Linked DNA regions of Homo sapiens. The protein of the gene in region 1 purifies or fractionates together with the protein of each later gene. This does not show direct contact. Each region holds a gene or a part of one and is shown on either strand. Other genes may lie near its edges. The genes, in order: TRAFD1 and NAA15.

What was found.
Region 2: the proteins of TRAFD1 (region 1) and NAA15 purify together in Homo sapiens (affinity purification with mass spectrometry; 2 studies listed by BioGRID and IntAct, with this or other methods). This does not show direct contact.

The regions. Positions count from the first base shown.
Region 1 is NC_000012.12:112,131,922-112,135,744, reverse strand, and holds part of TRAFD1 (TRAF-type zinc finger domain-containing protein 1), read right to left. Parts: intron 1,008-3,823; coding exon 872-1,007; intron 733-871; coding exon 679-732; intron 1-678. UniProt on the Homo sapiens protein: Negative feedback regulator that controls excessive innate immune responses. Regulates both Toll-like receptor 4 (TLR4) and DDX58/RIG1-like helicases (RLH) pathways.
Region 2 is NC_000004.12:139,381,476-139,385,298, reverse strand, and holds part of NAA15 (N-alpha-acetyltransferase 15, NatA auxiliary subunit), read right to left. Parts: intron 468-3,823; coding exon 321-467; intron 1-320. UniProt on the Homo sapiens protein: Auxillary subunit of N-terminal acetyltransferase complexes which display alpha (N-terminal) acetyltransferase (NAT) activity. The NAT activity may be important for vascular, hematopoietic and neuronal growth and development.

The DNA.
Region 1 (3,823 bases):
AATAGCATGTTATCCAGGTGTTCAAGATTTTAAAATGAAGCCAGATGTGGTGGCTCACGCCTGTAATCCCAGCACTTTGGGAGGCTGAAGACAGGCAGATCACAAGGTCAGGCCAACATGGTGAAATCCCGTCTCTACTAATAATTAGCTGGGAGTGGTGGTGGGCGCCTATAATCCCAGCTACTCAGGAGGCCGAGGCAGGAGAATTGCTTGAACCTGGGAGGCAGAGGTTGCAGTAAGCCGAGATCACACCACTGCACTCCAGCCTGGGCAACAGAACAAGACTCCGTCTCAAAAAACAAACAAACAAAAAAGAATTTTAAATGAAATGACAGCTTGTAAGGCAGGCTGTGTGCTAAAGAGGTTATCCCATACTGGCAACTCTAGGGCTGGCTTCATATTCAGTGAGGCTGCCAATAACCAAACCCCAACAGAAATAATAGACTCAGTTCCAAAGGGAGATACTTCGCGAGTCTCAACATACACAAGTGAGTTCCAACAGCCAGGTAGCCGAATCTGGCAGCAGTTACATAGTCAAGGCCTCAAACAGGCTTTGAGAAACAGTATGCATGTGAGCTCACGGAGAACTAACACTCAACCAGACTGGCTTCCTGCTCTGCATGTGGGTCTGTAATCTCAGCAGGACTGGGCCCACGGTAACTCACTCCATGGACTAACCTCATGCTTCTTTAACAGCCTCTTCTCCAACTTCTTGTTACATTTGCAGGTCACCTAGAGTAAGAAGTGAGAATCAGTAAATTGGCTTTGGGACAATATGCTCATTTGCTATTGCACAATAGCAAACAGAATACATTTACGAACAACAGCAAGTATAACACATGTATAAACATTTGAGTACTTGGTGGCTCACCTGACAGTGTTCTGCAGCCATGTGAGTCTCCATGTCAGATTTGGGAAATGGTTCCTTACAGGTAGGACACATACCAATGTTCCTTTGACAGTGGATCTCATGGATGGTAAAGTTAAACACAGGAATTTCTTTTTTGCTACGGAAATAGACCAAAGAAAAAGGCAAGCATTACTGACTAATCTATGCCTTTTCTTGCACAGTGGCATCACATGGAAATCTGTCCTGTCCAATCTTTAGTCTCCATTATTTATCTTTAGTGAATACCTAGCCTACAAACTCATGACTATTACCATTCCTGCTTTTCAAGAACTAAATCCTGGCCAGGCGCGGTGGCTCATGCCTGTAATCTCAGCACTTTGGGAAGCCGAGGCAGGCGGATCACCTGAGGTCAGGCGTTCGAGACCAACCTGGCCAACATGGTGAAACCCCATCTCTACTAAAAATATAAAAATTAGCCAGGCGTGATGGCGGGCACCTGTAATCCCAGCTACTCGGGAGGCTGAGGCAGGAGAATCGCTTGAACCCAGGAGGCAGAGGTTGCTATAAAAAAAAAAAAAAAAAACTGGCCGGGCGCCGTGGCTCACGCCTGTAATCCCAGCACTTTGAGAGGCTGAGGCGGGCAGATCACCTGAGGTCAGGAGTTCGAGATCAGCCTGGCCAACATGGTGAAACCCCGTCTCTACTAAAAATACAAAATTAGCCAGGTGTGGCGGCACATGCCTGTAATCTCAGCTACTCAGGAGGCTGAGGCAGGAGAATCGCTTGAACCCGGGAGGCGGAAGATGCAGTGAGCCTAGATCGTGCCATTGCACTCCAGCCTGGGCAACAAGAGCAAAACTCTGTCTCAAAAAAAAAAAAAAAAAAAAAAAAAATTAAATCCTTTCCAGGTGCAGTAACGCCAGCACATTGGGAGGCTGAGGCAAGCAGATCACTTGAAGTTAGGAGTTCAAGACCAGCCTAGCCAACATGGTGAAACCCCGCTTCTACCAAAAATATAAAAAATTAACCAGGTGTGGTGGCGGGTACCTGTAATCCCAATTACTCGGGAGGCTGAGGCAGGAGAATCACTTGAACCCGGGAGGCAGAGGTTGCAGAAAGCTGAGATCATGCCACTGCACTCCAGCCTCGGGGATAGCAAGATTCCGTATCAAAAAAAAAAAAAAAAAGAACTAAATCCTGAAGGCTCTTCTGTGCAACATTCTGAGTTACCGGTGCTATGCACTACTACATCTAAAAGCTCAGCCTTACTTTCTCAAAGTCAGAGCTGATCACAACATGAAGTCAGATGCCAAAAAGAGTGGAGCTAGGCTATTCCAAAACCATCCATGTCCCAAAGCAGAGTGATACGCTCCAGGATTATTTTAAAACAGAAAACAAACCAAAACAACAACAAAAACAAGTGAAAAAACACCCTACCACTGATTTTCTCTCACTTTTAAGTAGTTTAATTTCATTGGATTTTATTCCATGAAAAGTCAAACCAAAAAGAGAAGACTCCAGCTTTTGGACAGTCAAAGGGGAAGGGGAAATTGTCTCCTGTATGCCTCACATGCCTTTCGAAGCAGGCTGGATGCTTCCTGACTACAGGAACATGCTCTCTGGCTGGGTTGGTAGAAACTTCACTGTAAAGCTGTACAAAAATGAAATCCTGAACCCTTTCCTCCACCAGTCTGGTCTCTCCACTTCATTTTTGCCTTTCTCACTTAGTTTAGTGGTTCAAAGATCATATCTAAGCTATACAAATTAAGGAGGTAAAGTGATAATGTTACATGAAAGAGTAAGACCATTTAAACATGAAAAGATTATACATGTACTCGAACTAAAGGTACATTCTATTCAAAGGCCTTACTTTTACTTATTTGGATAGGACCATTGTAAAATTCCAATTTCACCAGCTAAAAACTACATTAAAGAAGGTACGTATAACAATAATTCAGAAAAATAAAATACTGAACAGGATCAATACAGATAGTCATAAAACACATTATTTAATACCATATTTTGCCTCTGAAGCTGAATACTAGAAGAACTGTCTCCCATACTAAATTATAAATAGCTTATTTCTCTTTTAATAACCTTTAATATTCAGACATTGTCTAAGAAACATTTTGAAGTAGGATAAATGATGTGCCTCCAGCTATAGTCATTCTTCCAAACTGAAAGACCAAGACACCAAGGAAGTGCAAATTCATTTTCATCCAGTGGTGGAATTATCAAGCTAGGGACCCCAAGGCAGCTCTCAAAGCAGCACTGGAAGGTGACAGAACAATCAACTGTGAGAGATGGGAAGAAAACTCAAATGGATAAAGAGGAAAATTACTGACAGATTTAACTTCCCATATTTCTCTCAAATTTTTAGCTTTCTAAGGAAACTACTCATTTTGAATTAATTTAGTTAAAATAATACATCCCAACTTTTTAAAGATGTTGTGAAATGAATACTTTAATACATTACTGGTGGTAGTATAAACTGCCTAAAAACAGTCTGAAAATTCATTTCTAGGACCATAAAATTATATACTCTGTAACACAATAATCCTACTCTTGGGATTATGTATGAATATTTTCATTACAGTATCATAGAATGGTAAAAAATGAAAGTCATTAAAAATACCTAAGCAAGAAAGGAATAGCTAAGTTACATATAGTATACCAACAAAGTGAAAGAAGAAATGTTATATTGTGATTGTAAATCATGTATGTACAAATGCCATGAAAATTAAAGCCAGTAATTACTGCTTAGGGTGTAGAAAACCTGGGTTCCTTTTTCATAATATTGGCAATAATTTTTATTTTAATGGTAAATATGGAGACACTAAATGTCTAGCATTTACTTTACAAGGCTGTTCAGGATAACTTGTTGACATACTACATACACAAGGCCCCTAAAACTTTAGAATTAAAACAAAAAATATTAAGGACCACACCATCATAATATGAAGCAACAAGAAT
Region 2 (3,823 bases), on another chromosome or scaffold:
TATATATATATATATTATATATATATATGTTTGGTTTTGTTTTGATTTGAAACAGGGTATCATTATGTTGCCCAGACTGGCCTCAAATTCCTGGGCTCAAGTGATCCTTCTGCCTCAGCATCCTGAGTAGCTGGGACTACCGGTATGTGCCACTGTGCCCAGCTTAGGAAGCTTATTTAAGCTGCCTGTTTTCATACGATCACAATGTAACATATACACACTGCCTCTTCCATTCTAAAAACATGTACCTTATATTATTGTTGATTCATTAAAATTACTGAAGTTGTTTTAGAAGGCTAAGGATAAAATAAAGTGATTACCTGATAATCTGTGTGGCAATGAATCAGAATTCCTTTTCAGAAAAGTTTCATTAAAATTCTTTGGATTCGTTGCTCCAAAAAGACGATTCATTTCTTGTTTTAATACTGTTCTAACTGTATCAGATAAATCTTTACTTTCACACACTGCTGAATAAATTAAAAATAAAATCTTAGCAGTTGAATACTCTGATAAAGTTTACAAAAGTTTATTTTTGTTTGTGTTTGAGACAGGGTCTTGCTCTATCACCCAGGCTGGAGTACAGTGGCACAACCATGGCTCACTGTAGCCTCAACCTTCCAGGCTCATGCAATCCTCCCACTTCAGCCCCCCAGGTAGCTGGGACTTCAGGTGTGCACCACCACACCCAGCCTATAGGAGTTAAATTACCTAATGATGAGGCCAATGAAACATGGCAATTATATACAAAGACAAGATAAAACCTACTGATAATTTAACATTTGCAAAAAGAGCTTACCTATATAAACTGACTGACTGATTGAGACAGACAAGGTTTTACTGCCACCCAAGCTGGAGTACAGTGGCGCAATCATGGCTCACTGCAGCGTCAACCTCCCAGGCTTCAGTGATCCACCCACCTCAGCCTCCTGAGAAGCTGGGACCACAGGTGCAAGCTACCACGTCCAGCTAATTTTTCTATTTTTTTGTAGAGACAGGGTTTCGCCATGTTGCCCAGGCTGGTCTCCAACTCCTGGGCTCAAGAGATCTGTTCACCTTGGCCTCCCAAAGTGTTGGGATTACAGGCATGAGCCATCATGCCCAGCAATACACATTAAAAAGAATGTATGTCAGCAGAACAATCTAATGTTCTAAAGGCATTCAAATAATTTTATTAACACGAGATTCATTTCCAGAAAGGAACTGTAAGCAAAGGAGATGACAAAACAAGTAGTTTCACAGCCTTCTAAACCCCTAGAGCTGCCCCCTCAACCTTAAGGTCTGCAAAGCAGCAACTTGGGAATACCCACCTGGTAAATAGTATCACAGCCAACTATGTAGTGCTGAAGACAACAAATTTTCCTCACCCTCCCTATCTTCCTCTATACCCAAGTAAGGCACACGTTTCAATTAAAAACAAAAGAAAACATGGTTGATGTCATTGACCTTTATTTCAGAAACTATGTAAATTGAGCTATCACTGTATAATAAACTCCCAAGGACCACCAAAGCATTTTCCTATTAATAAATAGGCTGGGCACGGTGGCTCACACCTGTAATCCCAGCACTTTGGGAGGCCAAGGCGGGTGGATCACTTGAGGTCAGGAGTTCGAGACCAACCTGGCCAACATGGCGAAACCCCGTCTCTGCTAAAAATAAAAAAATTAGCCTGGCATGGTGGTGTGTGCCTGTGGTCCCAGCTACTCAGGAGGCTGAGGCAGGAGAACAGCTTGAACCTGGGAGGTGGAGGTTGCAGTGAGCCAAGATCATGCCACTGCATTCCAGCCTGGGTGACACAGTGAGACTCTGTCTCAAAATAAATACATAAATGAATGAATGCACTGTTGTCATCATATTCCCAGGCCTTGGGATTTAGAGATGATTCCTCTGGATTGAATCCAAGTTATACTTTGTTTCATTATCATTTTGGTATAAAGAGAGAGTCTGGAGCTTTGAAGCCAGTTAGACTTGGGTATGGATCCAGGCTTGGATAAGTCATAACCTCTCTGAACCTATTTCTTGATCTATAAAACTGGGGTGATATCTAATCTAAAAGATTTACAGTAAGGAAAAGCTACTGTGTAAAAGTGCTAATTATGTAATAGGTAGTCAATAAATCATAGTTACTATTTTTATCATAGTGTGAAAACATTACGTAGATTTTCCTTATGGCTGGGAACTATGGTGATGACTTTCAAATTTTCACTTTAATCAGGTATTTGTACTGCGACAAATACATATTCCATATCCATAACTTATGTGAAGCAAAAGTTTCACAGAACACTTACTGTGTGCAACATATGCTGATCTTTTCTACACTATTCTATTTTTATTTTGGGTTTTTGAGTGCTGGTAATGACCCACTATCCTGCTAATGGATCATTAATCTAAGTTTAAAAAATATAATGAACTCAGTAGGAAACATTTTCTAAGTGAAATATTCTATACATAATTATTAGCTGAATAATTCACTGACATGCTCTTTGTTGGTTAAATAGCATTTCTTCTATTATTCTATAAAACTGGGTGGTTCAAGTAAATGAGCTATAGTGAAATACTTTAGTTTAACCTCTACTATGGCTGTACTTTCAACTTGGTTTTGTCAATCTATCAATACTTGTTTTTCAGTGGAAAAGCAGGAATAGAGAGGAAACAGAAAAAAGTTATTAAAATAGGTTACAGCCAACTGCAATGACATTAATTATCTCAAAAAGAATGTATCTTCTGTACAATAAAAATTATTTACATAGGCCTTGCTGGTTTGCCTGAAATGCTTTCAGGATACTTTACATGTAAAAAATATCTGCATAGTTTGTATCATAGTTGATGAAGAGAGGGGTAGGCAAGGGGTTTTTATGGTTTTCATTATCTTTTTTTAACTTGTTTTAATCAGATTAAACAATCTCCCAGAAAAATTAAAACTGCTAAAAAAAACTCTACCAAAACTGAAGCAAATAACTTCACTAACAGCTGATTCCAAAAAGTTTGAGGCCTACTAATTTTCTCCTAAACTTTTCTGGATATTTTCCTGGAAATTACAGTTCCAGAAAACTAGAATTGTTAACCTCCAGGAAAATATCAATTACAAAAAGGATAAAAAAATTCTACTGCAGTAAAACCCAGAATGTCCTATGGAATTCTGTGTAATGAAATTTTATGTGTACCCTTAAGAAAAGGAGCAACATCATATGTCACAGATTATCAGATGTCCATTTACTGCTAAAGACTAGTGGGCAGGGGAGAAAAACTCTAAAAAGCCTTTGAATGTGGTAAAACTGACAAAAAACATCAAGGCCTCAGGAAAGTAGCAAATCCCCTACTAACTCAATTACCTTCCATGAAAGAGTAATAAGTCTTGAGAATCAAGGAAAAGTAATAACTGATGAGCGAGAAGGGGAATATAAAACCTTTTCTAAGGGGTTTTTGATTTGGGTCCTTTGACATCTTAAACTGGAATGTTTGGTTCATGCTATTAGCTTATTAACAGAATGAATAAATTAAGCAAGCACCAATGGTTAAAACACACAATGAAAAGGTGGCTGATTCTTAGCAAAAGGGATTGCACAGGGTTCTCAGGCTAGCTGGCATTGTTAATAATTTGGGTAAAAAATGTTCTTATTTTGTGTGAGGTAATGACTGTTCACTACTAGGTTATAGTACAACCGAGTAAGTGATTACAACTCAAAAACGGCAAAATAAATGAGAAAATTAAACAAAGCTTAAAAAAATAAAAAATTTAATAATTTAGTAAGTATTAAACAAGGTTTAATAAACAAATTAGATTATGAAAGAAGGTTGGAGGAGACATACATAAGTATAAAAAACA